Homo sapiens: one gene and its partner. Each later gene encodes a partner of the first gene's protein in a complex. Each region holds a gene or a part of one and is shown on either strand. Other genes may lie near its edges. A codon is read from its position in the direction of its gene.

Region 1 (7,839 bases):
CCCTACAAACTGTTCAACTCTGGATCCCACTACGTGACGGACCAGGGAGCAGCCTCAGGAAACACTCGAATCAAGTCTCCCAGTCTGAAGTAATAACCCCGTTATGCATAAACTGCCTGGAACATCAGAGGCTCTGTCATCCAGGAAAGGAACACCAGCTGTAGCTCCCTTGGGGTCTCTCCTCAACCTTAAGGGTAGCCAGGACTGCTTGCCGTTTCCCCACACACATCAGGCTCTCTCAGACCTCTTTGTCTCTACTCGTGTATTCCCTCTGCTTGGCTGCTTGGACTGGTATTTTCCCCTGTGCCACCTGCAAATTCCTACCCATCATCTAGGGCTCAATTCGTGTCTACCACCCCAGCCCCTCAGGCTCCTACAGGACACACAAACCACCATTAAATAATTTATCTTGCGACACTAGCATTATTCGCGAGCTTCTCAAGGGCAAAAAGTTCCTCTTATTTGTGTCTGTATATCCAGTTCCTAGCACAGTGCTTGGCAGAAAGAAGGTACTTAGAATGAATGCTTACTGAATGAATGAATGAATGAGTGAGTGAACAAACAAATGCAGTCAAGAACTTGAGATGGTTGTATTCTAACTGCCATGAGTTAATTTACCAGTGATATCTTTGGTTCTAGGTGTCAGTAATTAACACTGTGGATACCTCCCATGAGGACATGATTGTAAGTATTAATATCACCCTCCCTGGAGGGGTGTGGACATGGGCATTTTTGTGGGAGGGAAGCAATTTGGGGTTTTCATTACCCCTTTCTGTTGATCATTCATGGATCCAGGGTGGCTTTGCAGTGGTTGCCTATCAGCCTGTAATCTCGGGGTATGGCAGGCTCCCTAGCAGTGCCCTCTGAGTTGTCAGGACTGTGGCAGTCTAATCACTCTCTGCTGGGAGGAACCTGGGAATAATTTGTAGTTCTAGGCTGTCAGTCTTCCAGCCAATACAATAACCTGCTCTCGGATGAAGGCTGAGTGGGTACGGAGGCTTGACAATAGTCTTCCCACCTGTCTTCCTCCTGCTGTCACTTCTTAGCCCCACTGGAAAGGGGGGTGAAAAGAAGAGAGTGTAGAAAGATGACTCAATACAAAGGCAGAGGGCAGCCACAGTGAAAGCCCCAGGCAGAGCCCAGTCAAACCACCAAGACAATAGGCCAGACAAGGCCCTTTGAACCAGAAGTCCACACTCAGGGCATTTCCTGAGAGGTAAACACAAGGCTCAGTATAAGAGGACAGGGCTGCAGGAGAAGGTCCAGAGGTTAAAGTCTACCGCAGGAAAAACACAGACTCTGCTTCATTCAGGGCCAAGCAGCCTTTGAGCAAGACCCAGGACAGCTGGCTGACAGTGTTTCATGTCAGGGTTCTTGCCCTCACAACCTGTCCACCAACAGTTGCTTTTGGGTTTCTGAGAGGTTGTCTGGTCCCAGAGTTGTATATGTTCTCTGGATTCAGTCATGAGTGGTCTAGCTGTAAGACCACACCTCCTTGGAGATAGCATGGAATCATGGGCAGGAAGACCCAGTCTGAGACTCCCTAGCCAATATCTTAACTTTTCTGAGCCAGCCTCAATTTACTTACGGGAAAAATAATGGATATGCTACCTACTCGTATGAGTTTGGTTTGAGAACTAGATGAGGCCAAGTAGTAATGACAAACATTTGCATGCTCACTGAGTGTCAGGCCCCATGCTAAGTACTTTTCTTTTTTTTTTTTTTTTTTTTTGAGATGGAGTTTCGCTCTTGTAGCCCAGGCTGGCATGCAGTGGCGTGATCTCAGCTCACCGCAACCTACGCCTCCCGGGTTCAAGTAATTCTCCTGCCCCAGACTCCCGAGTAGCTGGGATTACAGGCGTGCGCCACCACTCCCAGCTAATTTTGTATTTTTAGTAGAGGCAAGTTTTCTCCATGTTGGTCAGGCTAGTCTCGAACTCCCGACCTCAGGTGATCCGCCCGCCTCAGCTTCCCAAAGTGCTGGGATTACAGGCGTGAGTTTTCATTCAATATCTTGTTTAACCTTCATAACAACTGTTGAGACAGATGCTATCTTTAGCCTTATTTAAAGATAAGGGAACTAAGGCCCATAGGATGTTGGTAAATAATAAAGATAAGGAAACTGAAGCTCAAGGAGATGAAGTGTTTTCAAAGTTTGCACAGCAGGTAAACTAAGGAGATAGGATTTAGATCTGAAAGGTACTATGTCCTGCCTCCTTCCACTGAGAAGCATGAGAAGTGCTTCAGAAACACTCCTCTACTGCCTGCCCTCCAAGAAACCAAGGCCTGATACAGTGGAGGGAGTTCCCAAAGAAAAATCAGGATGTGTTCCTTGCGTAGGGAGGTGAGAATTCCCATCTGAGCCAGACAGAATGAGTGCCTTTGAATGGGCATAATTGCCCCTGGTGGCCATGGGAGTGCAGCTGATAGTCCTGAAACTCCCAGGGTGGGACAGCTGGGGAAAGGGACATCCATTGGAATAGGCAGGGCCAGCAAGCAGAAGGGACCAGGGTGTTCAGTGGTGCAGGAGGCATGGTGCCTCAGAGACCATCACCCTGCGGACAAGGATCTGCAGGTAGGGGCCAGGCCTAGTTCTGCATGCTCAGTCAGCATCAAGGAATTCGGTTCACAAGTGGTGAGAGCAGCGACACTTAAGGCATTGTGTTCCTTGGGTGGAAAGTCTGGGAAGCTCTGGGCACACTACTAGGGAAAAGGTCGAGCAGAAGCCCCAAAACAAAGGTCCACAAAGGATCCAGGGCCAGGGCTGGAAAGAGCCCAAATATCTGAATGGAACCCTGTGTGCAGGCCAGAGCTGCATCACAGAAGACCTGACTGGGGACTCCAGGCAGTCAGAGGCCCACTCCTTTGGCCTGCTCCCATGCATTAGCATCAGGTGCTAGGGCTGAGCTGAACCCAGGGGTATTCCCCTTTAGCCCACAGAGCCTAAGAACTGAATAGGGCCTGAGAGGATGGAGGAAGAAGAGGGCAGCTAGGCCAACTTTTTTTCTCCCATACCCACCCTGCGGAACAGGAATGGAAGAGCCCTTCCCTGAGGTATGTAAAGGGTCTGTGACACCAGCTGGGCATGGCTTGCTTTGTCCATTTCAGAGAGACACTGCCCATAGGTGAAGTGAGAATGTCCACATGCTAGCTTCCTGCCTGAGGGTGATGATACTTTGAGATCAGATTGATTTCAGGGAGATTCTGGTCCAAACTAGACTCTGTGTAGTGACAGCCCTCACCCCACCCACCCACCCACCCAGCCTGCAGGCTTCCCGAGCTGTCCTCCCTTTGCAGCACGACGCCCAGATGGACTACTATGGCACCCGCCTGGCAACCTGCTCATCAGACAGGTCCGTCAAAATCTTTGATGTGCGCAATGGAGGGCAGATCCTTATCGCCGACCTCAGGGGGTAAGTGCTGGCGAGCCCAGGGAAGGGCTCCAGGAATGGTGTGGGTTCTCAGGCCCTGCTTCAAGCGTGGGAGCAAAGCATGGGAGCCCAGATTCAGAGCAACCCCAAAGCACATTTAGCGGAGAGGACGCTGGGATCCCAGCCAGCCTGGCTGTCCTCAGCGGACGTCCCCAGGGATGATGCTGTTAAGGGCACAGGTGGATACAGGTGTGAATCTCAGCTCTGCCACTTTATGTGTACCCACCAGAAGACCTTGGGCAAGTGACTCAGTTTCTCTCTCAGAGCCTTCATCTGCTCATCCTCAAAATTGGGCCAATGCTACCTCCTATCCAGCTAGTGTATGCAAGGCCCTGACACAGGGCCCAGGACACAGTAAGTCTTTAGTGCAGGCAGCTACTGCTACTTTTAAAAGTGGTAAACAGTACCATTTCGTTCAAGTTTAGCCAGTATGACCTAAAGTGTCACAAAAGCATCACCGTAAGAATAATGTAAGAATGCTATCATTTTATAAATCCCATTGTTCTGCCTATATGCCCGTGGCACGTGTTCAGTGATTATTTACAAATGTTTGACCTGCCCTGCTCCCTACTGAGATTCTTGAGGAAGTCCTGGCTCATTTTTATGGCCACATCTCTACTGCTTTCCCTCAGCTCACTGCCTTTCACGTATTTGTGGGTTTGCCTGGGTGCCGTGGATCTCCAAGGGTTCTGTGAATAGAGTTCAGGGGTTGATGAATTGGGACAGGGGGAAAAAAATGCATTTTCAGTGACTCTGATATTTAGCATTTCCTTCAATTATGGATGTAGGCCAGAAACTTCAGTAGTATTTGTAGTGCCTGTCACTTTGTCACCAGTAGAATTCACAGATATTGTCATCACACATCACGGTTACTTAGCTACCTCAAAATACCACTTATGCTCATCACAACTTTGAAATTACAGTGGTTATTAGACCTGCCGCTAGGGTTTGTTGCTTGAAGTGTTAACAAAGAAGTACATGCATCACTATCTCATAAATTGCTTTATAATATTTTGATAACAGGCTGGGCAAGGTGGCTCACGCCTGTAATCCTTAACACTTTGGGAGGCTGAGGTGGGAGGATGGCCTGAGCCTAGGAGTTTGAGGCTGCAGTGAGCCACGATGGTGCCACTGCACTGCAGCCTGGATGACAGGGTGAAACCCTTCTCAAAAAAAAAAAGTTGATTACTGTATAATTTATAATTGAATTTTCTTTATAAGCCTAGTTCTGTGTGTTTTGTACATTAGTCTGATGAGGGTCCATAACCTTCCCCAGAATGCACAGAAAAGATTAAGAGCCATGACAGGTGGGTGCTCAGCATGTGTTTGTTCACTGAATTAAAAAGCATAAACTAAGTCAGTGTCCATTTGGGGAAATGGGCCTAGAAGCTCCCCTCTGTCTGAGTGTCAAATGATCAAGTGACTGAGGAGCCAAATCAAGCTTCTCTATGCAGGAGCCCCCCAGGCAGGCAGAGAGCTGCTGCAGTGCAGCGTGTTGGCCAAGGCAGTTATGTTTGCTGTGACTCTGTCCTTTCTGCTGTTTTTCTTACATTCAAAGGATGTGAAATATTGGAGGGATAAAAAAAATTCCCACCCCATTCTTTTTTCCCCTTAGTAAAAACTGTGCTAGTTGTTGGAAGATTGAGTCTACTCAGTTTCATTAGCAGCAGCTTTGTAGGGACTGGGAATGTCCTGTTGTCCCAGCCAGAGGGAGGAGGAGACTTGAGTGTGTGCAGCCCACGGTGAAGGAGTAAACCAGGAGCAGCACTAATAGCTAATGGGTATTGAGTGGCTTTTTTCTTTCCTTCTACCAAGCATTGTTCCAAACTTTATGAAAGAATTCTTATTGATGTCTCCATTTTCAGGTAAAGAGACAAAGATATCCTTGCCTAAAGTCAAGAGCTAGTGAATGGGAGAATGGGTCTGGTCTCCTAACCACTAACTCTACCATGCTACTCTACCTCTTGAGTGCTAAGGTGCAAAACCTTCCCTGGGCCAGAGAAATGGTCACCGTACAAAGCCTGGCACAGAGCATGTGCTCAGATAGCACCTGTTATCAGGTGAATGGATAAAGATCAGAAGAGAAGGGAAAGACATGCCTTTCGAACAAATTAAAAGAGTAGTGGAAAACATCAAAATGAAACCAATAATGCCTCCTCAGGAAGCTGACCGTCGGGAAGGATGAATAGCAATTCAGTCTACAAATATTTCCTGAACACTTCTGGCTGGAAACCTTGGACCAATTAATGACTATGCTGTAGACAGCACATACAGACAGTGCTGGCTGCAGTCTGGGCAAGTGAGGCTCCTGCCTGGCCAGGACAGGAAGGCTGACCCAGAGGCTCAACTCTCTCTCAAAGGCTCTGTGACCTTAGGTTGCTTAACCTCTTAGGACCTCAGGCTCCTCACTGTCCACTGAGCACCCCTTTTGCAATGGCATTGTATAGTTCTCCCTTTGAAGTTCTTAAGCAATTCTGCCCTGATATATCGTCTCAGGGAGCCATTTAGTTCTGTCCAAAGTAGTGCCTGCAGAGGCACTGTGGGTTCCTCTGGCCTATCTCTCCCTTTGTAGTCATGAGGGTCCTGTGTGGCAAGTGGCCTGGGCTCACCCCATGTACGGCAACATCCTGGCATCGTGCTCCTATGACCGGAAAGTCATTATCTGGAGAGAGGAAAACGGCACCTGGGAGAAGAGCCACGAGCATGCGGGACACGACTCCTCAGGTATGCTGAGCTTGGCAGCAGAGCGGGCAAGGGGACCACTGGGTAAAAAAGGACTCTGTCCCGGCTGGAGCCCTGGCTCCCTGCCCCTCGTGGTGCCTCTTGTCTGTCTCTTGAGCTTTGGTTGGCTTTTCTGCTACTCTGTCCTCAGCTGAGTAAGGCCCTAAGACCTAAAGCCAGTCCAAAGCAAATAAGAAAAGACAGGTGAGTTTCTCTTCAGGATTATTCATTGCAAGGACTACCCTTCATTCTCAGATTGTTTTCCTACCCACTTTTTTGTTAGATAGACTGTAGGTTATGAAATCGTGGTATTAGTAGGTGATGGGGTTTTTTTGTGTCCTCAGTTGACCAAGTTACAGCTTCCCCCGGTGACTCCTACAGTTGTTTGTTGTAGACATTTAGTAAAACAGTAAATCTGTGGAAGGCGGGACCTGGGGCCGCGGTCTCCCTGCTTTGCTCACTGCACTCTCCCTCTTCCCGCAGTGAACTCGGTGTGCTGGGCCCCCCATGACTACGGCCTGATCCTGGCCTGTGGGAGCTCGGATGGGGCCATCTCCCTGCTGACTTACACCGGGGAAGGCCAATGGGAAGTAAAGAAGATCAACAACGCTCACACCGTGAGTCCATCCCCTGCCTTTCGTGCAGTGAGAGCGCCTGCCTTGCCCCGTGTCTGCTGCAGCCTCCCTAGAGGGTGGCACGGGAGGGTCCCCGCTGGACAGTGGGCCGGGGAGTGGTCAGCTGACCAGACATGATTGCTCTAGAGCAGCTTTGAGCCTCTCTGCCCTGAAGCCAGACCAGGCAGGGCTTGGCACTGCTTCCTTGTTGTGTGCTCCCAAGCAGGGGAGGGCTGGTGCAGCAGCAGCCTGCTCACTGCCACCTTAGCTATGGTTGCCTCCAGGTGACATGCCCTGCAGTAGTCATTGGGACCCTGTAGAATGGAGTGGTGTTATTAAAACTTTTAAAAAGTATGTGAGCTATGCATACATTTAAGAAAGATTAATATAAACAAGGTCATTCTTTACCCAACTTTTGGTGAATCAGCGAGTGACAGTGGTCGTGATGTTGGTGGTTCAATCAAGGAATAAATGTTTGCAAAGCGAACATCAATGTCCTACCTCCTACCACCACACAGTTCAAAAACCAACAATAACCAATGTGGGGGGCTCATATGACTAATGCCACATCGTTTGCTGTCATGCATCTGTATGATTATTGGATATTTTATGAGTTTAATTCTACAATAATTTGTATCTATTCTTTTTCTAATCTACTCATTCCAGTTCAGGGTCACAGGTGGTTGGAGCCTGTCCTGGCAGCTTAGGGCATGAGGCAGAAGCCAGCCCTGGACAGGATACCATTCCACCAGAGGAGCACTCACACACACCCCCACACTCACACTGGGACAATGCAGACGTACCATTGAAGTGAACATGCACATCTTTATTGTGTGAAAGGAAACCAGAGTACCAGGAGAGAGCCCACGCAGACACAGGGAGAACACACAGACTCCACACAGGCAGGGGCCCCCGCTGGGAGTTGTTTTTTTTTTTTTAATCTTGTCAGCATTATAATGAAATGAAATTGAGGATCAGTTGTACATAGAATGAGACAATCTGTGGTCTTTTGTGACTGGCTTCTCCTACTTACTATAATGAGTTCAAGTTTCATCCATATCATAGCGTGTATC
Region 2 (7,839 bases), on another chromosome or scaffold:
GTTATTGATTATAGAGATGAATGTGAACTTCAAGTTTCTCCTTTTCGACAATACCTTCTGTATATTTTTCAAGTATGTTGGTGCCACGTGATTTAATTGATTTTGCATGCCTAATGCTTCTCGACCTGTTTCTCAGTATCTTTGTTTGCTTATTCTTTCTCCTTAGATTGTAAACTCCTTGATTCAAAGTCCATATCTTCTTTCTTTTGAGCATCTCAGAGTCTAGTATGTTTTCCAGTTAATGGGCATACAATGCTGTGCTGCTACTGAGAAAGGTTTTCCAGAAAATAGTATTTGATTTTTTTTTTTTTTTTTTTTTGAGACAGAGTCTCGCTCTGTCGCCCAGGCTGGAGTGCAGGGCGTGATCTCGGCTCACTGCAACCTCTGCCTCCCAGGTTCAAGAGATTCTTCTGCCTCAGCCTCCCAAGTAGCTGGGACTACAGGCGTGTGCCACCATGCCCAGCTAATTTTTGTATCTTTAGTAGAGACAGGGTTTCACCATATTGGCCAGGCTGGTCTCGTACTCCTGACCTGGTGATTCGCCCACCTCAGCCTCCCAAAGTGCTGAGATTACAGGCGTGAGCCACAGGGCCCGCCGTATTTGATTTTTAAAGGTATTGAGGGGGTGGGAACTTTGCTTATGACATGATGGGTTTAGCCTGTGCCTTGGACTTAATAGACACTTAGAGGCTATTGGTTTCTGCTCAATGGCTCCAGGCCCCATGGGATTTCAAGTCGGGGAGGTATTCCTCAGATTTGGTGTCAACAAAAAGAAAGCCAAATCCATTTTGTCTTGGCCTATTGTTATTATTGTTACTTTTTAGCTTCAGAGAGGATACTGAAACTTTTATAATGAAGGCAACAAAGTCTTTCATTATTTAGGAAAAGAGGGACAGATCTTAAATGTGTTATAGACTGCCTTTTTTTTCCTCCCTGCCAACCCAACTTACTGATGAAACAGCATTTTAAAAAGTCATGTGAGGCCGGGTGCAGTGGCTCACACCTGTAATCCCAGCACTTTTTGGGGCTGAGGCAGGTGGATCACTTGAGTCCAGGAGTTCCAGACCAGCCTGGCCAACATGGCAAAACCCCATCTCTACTGAAAATACAAAAATTAGCCAGGTGTGGTGGCACATGCCTGTGATCCTAGATACTCGGGAGGCTGAGGCAGGAGGATGGCTTGAACCCAGGAGGCAGAGGTGGCAGTGAGCTGTGATTGTGCCACGGCACTCCAGCCTGGGCGACAGAGCGAGACTCTGTCTCAAAAAAGTAAAATAAAATAAAAAGTCATATGAGTTAGTGGTTAAGTAGATGACCCACTGAAATTATTACACTGTGTCATTTCTCTGATGTTTGCTTAATGAAAAATTTTTAAGCCTAGTGTTTCTCAAACTTTAGAGTGCACATAACTCCCCTAAAGAGTTGGTTAAAGTGTAAACGCTGATTCAGTAGGTCTAAGTGGGGCCTAAACTTATGCATTTCAATAAGGATCCAGCTTTTGCTGCCCCCAATGTAGCAAGGCATCAGGTTTTATATGGAAGACAGGTGGGATTGCTTCATGGTTTCGGTTCTTGTCCTTGCCAGTTTGAGTTTGTATTTCTCTTTGATCTGTCCAGGTTTGGTCGCTGGCTACGGTAGCTACAGATCTTTGCCTTGGTCCGAAATCTGACCCAGATTTGGAAACACCCTGGGCTCGACATCCATTTGGGCGGCAGCTGCTGGAGTCCCTGTAGGTTTTGAGAGCTAAAAATGAGAAAAATGAGTGATGTCCATTTTTGGTCTGTAAACACTTGAAATGTCACCACCTAAGAGAAAGGTGCAGAGGCCCGAGGAATGAAAGGAAGGAGTAGGATCTTTCCTTTCAGTGCTGAAATAATTTCTGTGCAGAACAAACTTCTTATAGCAGACAGAACCATACATTACTTGTCATTTATAACAAGGATTTGAGACCCCTGAGACTCATGTATCCTTTAGAGATTCATGCTTTAGTCCATAAATCACATCAGTCTGAATACAGGAGTTTGAGCTCATGAGATGGTAAGTTTCTTCTTGAAAGCTCTAGGGTCTCACCCTTGAGAATGGATTAGAGAATTGCATGTTGGTGTTCATGTTTGCCAAAGACCACGACGCTTTCACCCTGTTAGGCAATTTGAGAAAACATTGCCTTTGCGTTCAGTTTATTGCACTGACATATGGAAAACTAGGGTATACTATACAAAATAATTTAACACCAAGTAAAACCACTTGAATCTCCATAACTTGGAGGCCCAGGGCCTGGGGAGAGAAACGCTCCTGACTTCAAGTTGAAGTTTGCTTAATTTATGCATTAAGGCCACCCCTGGGACACGTGTTCGTGCTTCCGTTTCCTTGTCACTAACACAGGGATGATAAGGTTTACTCTACTTATTTCGTGTAAGACTCAAATAAGATAGTGAGTGTGAAAACACAAATATTAGACATTGAGTGATAGGAGGACATTAATATTATTCATTCTTAAAGGCAAAGCCCCTCTGATTCCTTACTCACATTCTAGCATAATCTTCCTGAAAGGACAAAGGGGATATGAGTACCTAAAGGACAGAAACACTCCTTGTTGTTCTTACCTAATAGCTCATCTTCATAACTGCACCTCCAGAGTCGATTGCCTGCTAGCATGCTGTGGCGGTCCAGTGTCCTCTGAGCTCCTTCATGTAGCTTTAGGTTATATAAATGACATGTGTGGGAATCCCCCAAAAGCAGTGTGATTCTTCCTTGGAGCTGGGAAGACAGAGCATGTATTGGCTCGCTCAGATGTCAGGTTAGTCCACTTAGTTCTTGGAGAAGCCACATTCATGTTTAAGCCCATGCCTGAAAGTTAGCCAGAGGCTTTGAGATGCGTTCTGTAGATCATTTGTAGTACGTGGATGCCTTATATTCCAAAACAAGTTTAGGCAAACTCAAAGTAGGTCAAACTGCCGGATCTGTAGAAAGCCCCATTTCCTGATGGGTTTTTGAGGCAGAATCAAGACTCCTCCCTTCCCACCCCTGTGGCAGTAACACGCCATGACTGTGACCGCTTTCCTCCTCAATCCCTCCTCCTGACTTGTTTTCTTTCCTCTTATCTTTTCCTCAGGTTGGCTCACTATTGCCGGCTCCGGGATGTTCAGACACTGGCGATGCTCTGTAGCGTGTTTGAAGCCCAGTCTCGGCCTCAGGGGCTACCAAACCCCTTTGGGCCTTTTCCTAACCGTTCTTCTAATCTTGTGGTGTCCCATAGTCGATATGTAAGTTTGTCCTTTTCTGGTTTTGTCTGATTTTTTTTTTTTTTTTTTTTTGAGACGGAGTTTTACTTTGTTGCCCAGGCTGGAGTGCAATGGCATGATCTCAGCTCACTGCAACCTCCGCCTCCTGGGTTCAAGCAATTCTCGTGCCTCAGCCTCCTGAATAGCTGGGATTACAGGCATGCACCACCACTCTTGGTATATTTTTGTGGTTTTAGTAGAGATGAGGTTTCACCATGTTGGCCAGGCTGGTCTCGAACCCCTGACCTCAGGTGTTCCACCTTCCTTGGCCTCCCAAACTGCTAGGATTACAGGCATGAGCCACCGTGCTTGGCCTGCTGTTTTCTTAATGTGAACTGTCATGGGGAATGGTATTCTCATGCTAGTCCTGTTGGTTCTTCTCTTCCCTTCTGTAGCCTAGCTTTACCTCTTCTGGTTCCTGCTCCAGTATGTCAGACCCAGGGCTCAACACTGGCGGCTGGAACATAGGTTTGTATGGAAATGACTTAGCCCACGCTGGATTTTTAGTTCTCCCAGAGCTGTGCATATGTAACCTTTAGTTGATGCTTAGTCTCCATATTTTTTCTTATTTCTTATTTCTCTTTACATTTACTGTGATAGGGATACTCTTGCTGGAGGCCTGACTTTGCATGTTGAACAGACCACGTTCTGGGGGTCTTTGTGCCTTGCTGTGTTGCTTTTCATCTCTTAACCTTGAGAAACTGACAATGGGACTTCCCACTGTTCACCCCCAAAACCTAACCCTTATCCTTTCTCCTTCACATGCTCTTTCCATGTTCATCTGCCACCTACCGCTTCCCATGAATGCTTTCAGTGTAGACAAATACAGCTGGGCCTGACTCCAGTTGATCATAAAGCTGTTTGCTGAGTAAGGTGTATTTGTGTTTCCTGGATTTAAAAAAAAAAAGGTTTTTAAAATGATCTTAATTTTCCTGATATCAAAAGTAGCTCATGCCCAGTGAAGAAAAGCAAGCAAAAAGTATTAGAGAAGAAAATTGTAATTATTGATCTCCCACCTAGGAATAGCGTCCATTAACATTCTAGAACATTTGCATCCATTCTTTGTGTGCAGGAGTGTGGTCATTTGATATATGTGACTTTGTGTTCTATTTTTCATTATATCATGAGCAAATATTGTTCAAAAAGTCCTCGTAAATAATGACTATGTAATGTTCTACTGTATCTCTGTGCCATCATTTGCTTTATTTATTTATTTTTTTTAGTTTTTTGAGATGGACTCTTGCTCTGTCGCCAGGCTGGAGTGCAATGGCATGATCTCGGCTCACTGCCCCCTCTGCCTCCCAGGTTCGAGCGATTCTCCTGCCTCAGCCTCCTGAGTAGCTGGGATTGCAGGCACGCACCAGTACGCCCAGCTAATTTTTGTATTTTTTTAAGTAAAGACATAATTTCACTATGTTCGTCAGGCTGGTCTCAAACCTCTGACCTCAGGTGATCTGCCTGCCTGGGCCTCCAAAAGTGCTGGGATTCCAGGCATGAGCCACAACGCCCAGCCCATCATTTGCGTTAGCATCATGTGTGTGTACTTAGTGATCAAGTTCTCTTAGTAATAAATACCTGCGCAAAAAGGCAAGGGTAGGAGAGAGTTCTATTTAGTTATATTTCTCAGAATATTCAGCCTCGCTTAACATTTCTTCTGGGAAATCCATTGGCCACGTGCTGTCTTATGAGACTCTTCAGATATTTTCCATGCCTTCTCTGATTGCCATCTTCCCTTCCCATTTGATTTTCTTCAGCGGGAAGAGAGGCAGAGCACTTGTCCTCCCCTTGGGGAGAATCCTCACCAGAAGAGCTCCGCTTTGGGAGTCTGACCTACAGTGATCCCCGTGAGCGAGAACGCGACCAGCATGATAAAAATAAAAGGTAACCACCCTCCCAGGTGAGAGCTGCAATGCCAGGACTCCAGGCAGGACTCCAGTTTCTCCACAATCACAACTCTTACTTTTTTTTTTTTTGGACACAGAATCTTACCCGGTCACTAGGTTGGAGTGCAGTGGCGGGATCTCGGCTCTCTGCAACCTCTGCTTCCCAGGCTCAAGTGATTCTCCTGCCTCAGCCTCCTGAGTAGCTGGGATTACAGGCACACGCCACCATGACTGGCTAATTTTTTGTATTTTTAGTACAGACAGGGTTTCACCATGTTGGCCAGGCTGGTCTCAAACTCCTGACCTCAAGTGATCCACCCGCCTCAGCCTCCCAAAGTGCTGGGAGTGACAGGTGTTAGCCACCGTGCCTGGCCAGGACTGTTGCTTTAAGAAGGGTATATTAAGTGCCATTTAGGATGAAGCTTGTTTTTTCTTAAAGGAACTGACAGGAAATCTTTTTAACTTTATCCAGGCTCCTGGACCCCGCCAATACCCAGCAATTTGATGACTTTAAGAAATGCTATGGGGAAATCCTCTACCGTTGGGGTCTGAGAGAGAAGCGAGCTGAAGTGTTGAAGTTTGTCTCCTGTCCTCCTGACCCTCACAAAGGGATCGGTGAGTATGAATTTCTCTCTCTTCCTTTCACTGTCTGAAAGATCCTGTAATTTAATATGTCCACAGCCTCAGACTTGGAATGAAGTTTCAGCTTCTCATTTCTAAGCAGAAATTTCTGAGGCATTTTGAGTCTATTCCAAGCATCTGAAAAGCCCTTGCATTTCGTAACAGGATGAATTTTTTTTTTTTTTTTTTTTTTTTTTTGAGATGGAATCTCACTCTTGTTGCCCAGGCTGGAGTGCAGTGGCGTGATCTCAGCTCACTGAACCTCTGCCTTCTGGGTTCTAACTTCTCCTCCCTAAGCCTCCCGAGTAGCTGAGACTACAGGCGCCTGCCACCATGCCTGGCTAATTTTTGTGCTTTTAGTAGATGGGGTTTTACCACGTTGGCCAGGCTGGTCTCGAACTCCTGACCTCAGGTGATCTGCCTGCCTCGGCCTCCCAAAGTGCTGGGATTACAGGTGTGAGCCATGGCGCATGCCCAGGATGCAGTTTCTATTGCAACAGAAGTAGTTGATATACAGTACTCCAGCGCGGATGAGAGGGATGGATATTTCTTCATTTATTCCACTGTGTGTCCGACTCCTCTTAGGCACAGTGCCCACACATTCCTTCCCCCCATGGAGCTTACAGCTGAGTAGGGGGGAAAATTAAGTAATTTCAAATTGTGATAAATATTCGCAAGCAAACAGAAACGATGTGGGGGCAGGGAGAACAGAGAGGGAGAATCTTAGAAGAGGAATTGAGGTGTGTTGAGAAGGCCTCCAAGGAGCTGAGGTCTGAAGGTTTAAAGGAACCGTGGAGCCATCGGTGCAGAGTGGTGAAAAGAGCATCCCACACTGAGGGACAGGCCCCAGGGAAATGACTGTCGTTGTGAACAAGCGAAGGAAGGTGGCGTGGTGTGGTTGGAGTACAGTGGGGAGAAGAGTGATATCAAATTAGAGTGTAGAGAACTTAGGGTTATATCAGGCAGGGGCTTGTAAGTTGCGGTAAAGAATTTGGATTTGGCCGGACGTGGTGACTTACGCCTGTAATCCCAGCACTTTGGGAGGCCAAGTCAGGCAGATCACTTGAGGCCAGGGGTTTGAGACCAGCCTGGCCAACATGGTGAAACCCCGTCTCTACTAAAAATACGAAATTAGCCAGGCGTGCTAGTGCACACCTATAATCCCAGCTACTCAGGAGGCTGAGGCAGGAGAATCGCTTGAACCCAGGAGGCAGAGGTGGCAGTGAGCCAAGATCACGCCACTGCACTCCAGCCTGGGTGACAGAGCGAGACTCTGTCTCAAAAAACAAAAAGAATTTCAATTGTATCCAAGTCCAATGGTAAGCTTCCAAGGGCATAAGAAGTAAGCAGTGTGCTTTGGGTTGTGTTTTAAGAGGGTCACTGTGGCCTTCCTACGAGGAAAGGATGGGAGGAGGGCAGATCAGAAATAGGAAGCCCGTTCAGAGACGTTGTAGCGGTCAGAGGCAGACAGCCCGGTCTGAGGGTGGCATCGCTAGAGTTGGAGAGAGATGATGGATGGGTTAAAATATATTTTAGAGCTAGACTCAGTGTGACTTGTTTATAACTTGGATGTGGGATCAGGAAGAAAGATGAAACTTGGACGATTCCTAGATTTCCAGCATGAGCAACTGGGTCATTGGCAGTACCAGCTTCCCAGATGGAAACGACTGGAAGAACACTGTGGGCTTAGGTTGGGATAGTCAGTGATGTGTGTGAGATATCGGACTGGAGAAGTTGCATAGGCGGTTGGATGTGAGTTGGGCTCTCAGAGAAGAGATTGGGGCTAGAACTGGGAATTTGGGGATCCCCAGCATGTGGATGGCATTCCAGCTGTGGGAATGGGTGTGTTGACCCTGGAGCTGGGGCTGGGAAGGAAGAGTGCAGGGAGAGGCCATCTGCGCTGGGCCTTGAGAGAAACCAATACCTGGAGCTAGGGTCGTAGAGGAAGAGCAAGGCAGAGAGAGTTAGAATGAGACCCTAATGAGTGTTGAGGAAAAGCAAGACTGAGCAGGGAGAGGTGTTTTACAGAATGAAATGGAAGGCTGCCAAATGTA

What was found. Proteins that work in one complex are often made in the same cells at the same time.
Region 2: the proteins of SEC13 (region 1) and WDR59 are in contact, whole or in part, in a cryo-EM structure (PDB 7UHY), measured with the Homo sapiens proteins. Residues at the interface, in NP_899195.1 of Homo sapiens: Val4 (codon at 646), Ile5 (codon at 649), Asn6 (codon at 652), Thr7 (codon at 655), Val8 (codon at 658), Asp9 (codon at 661), Thr10 (codon at 664), His12 (codon at 670), Asp14 (codon at 676), Met15 (codon at 679), Ile16 (codon at 682), His17 (codon at 3,298), Asp18 (codon at 3,301), Ala19 (codon at 3,304), Gln20 (codon at 3,307), Met21 (codon at 3,310), Asp22 (codon at 3,313), Tyr23 (codon at 3,316), Tyr24 (codon at 3,319), Gly25 (codon at 3,322), Leu28 (codon at 3,331), Val42 (codon at 3,373), Pro59 (codon at 6,014), Trp61 (codon at 6,020), Gln62 (codon at 6,023), His67 (codon at 6,038), Pro68 (codon at 6,041), Tyr79 (codon at 6,074), Ser105 (codon at 6,152), Asn107 (codon at 6,638); in NP_085058.3 of Homo sapiens: Ala525, Tyr526, Gly527, Asp531, Ala532, Asn533, Ile534, Pro535, Phe536, Pro537, Arg538, Thr539, Ser540, Gly541, Ala542, Arg543, Phe544, Cys545, Gly546, Ala547, Tyr549, Val551, Phe553, Thr554, Arg555, Met557, Ala644, Gly645, Lys646, Val647.

The regions. Positions count from the first base shown.
Region 1 is NC_000003.12:10,310,895-10,318,733, reverse strand, and holds part of SEC13 (protein SEC13 homolog), read left to right. Parts: intron 1-639; coding exon 640-684; intron 685-3,297; coding exon 3,298-3,413; intron 3,414-6,003; coding exon 6,004-6,155; intron 6,156-6,635; coding exon 6,636-6,769; coding exon of another isoform or gene 6,770-6,904; exon of another isoform or gene 6,905-7,158; intron 7,159-7,839. UniProt on the Homo sapiens protein: Functions as a component of the nuclear pore complex (NPC) and the COPII coat. At the endoplasmic reticulum, SEC13 is involved in the biogenesis of COPII-coated vesicles.
Region 2 is NC_000016.10:74,883,593-74,891,431, reverse strand, and holds part of WDR59 (GATOR2 complex protein WDR59), read left to right. Parts: intron 1-1,616; coding exon 1,617-1,729; intron 1,730-3,112; coding exon 3,113-3,263; intron 3,264-3,676; coding exon 3,677-3,749; intron 3,750-5,035; coding exon 5,036-5,162; intron 5,163-5,636; coding exon 5,637-5,779; intron 5,780-7,839. UniProt on the Homo sapiens protein: As a component of the GATOR2 complex, functions as an activator of the amino acid-sensing branch of the mTORC1 signaling pathway. The GATOR2 complex indirectly activates mTORC1 through the inhibition of the GATOR1 subcomplex.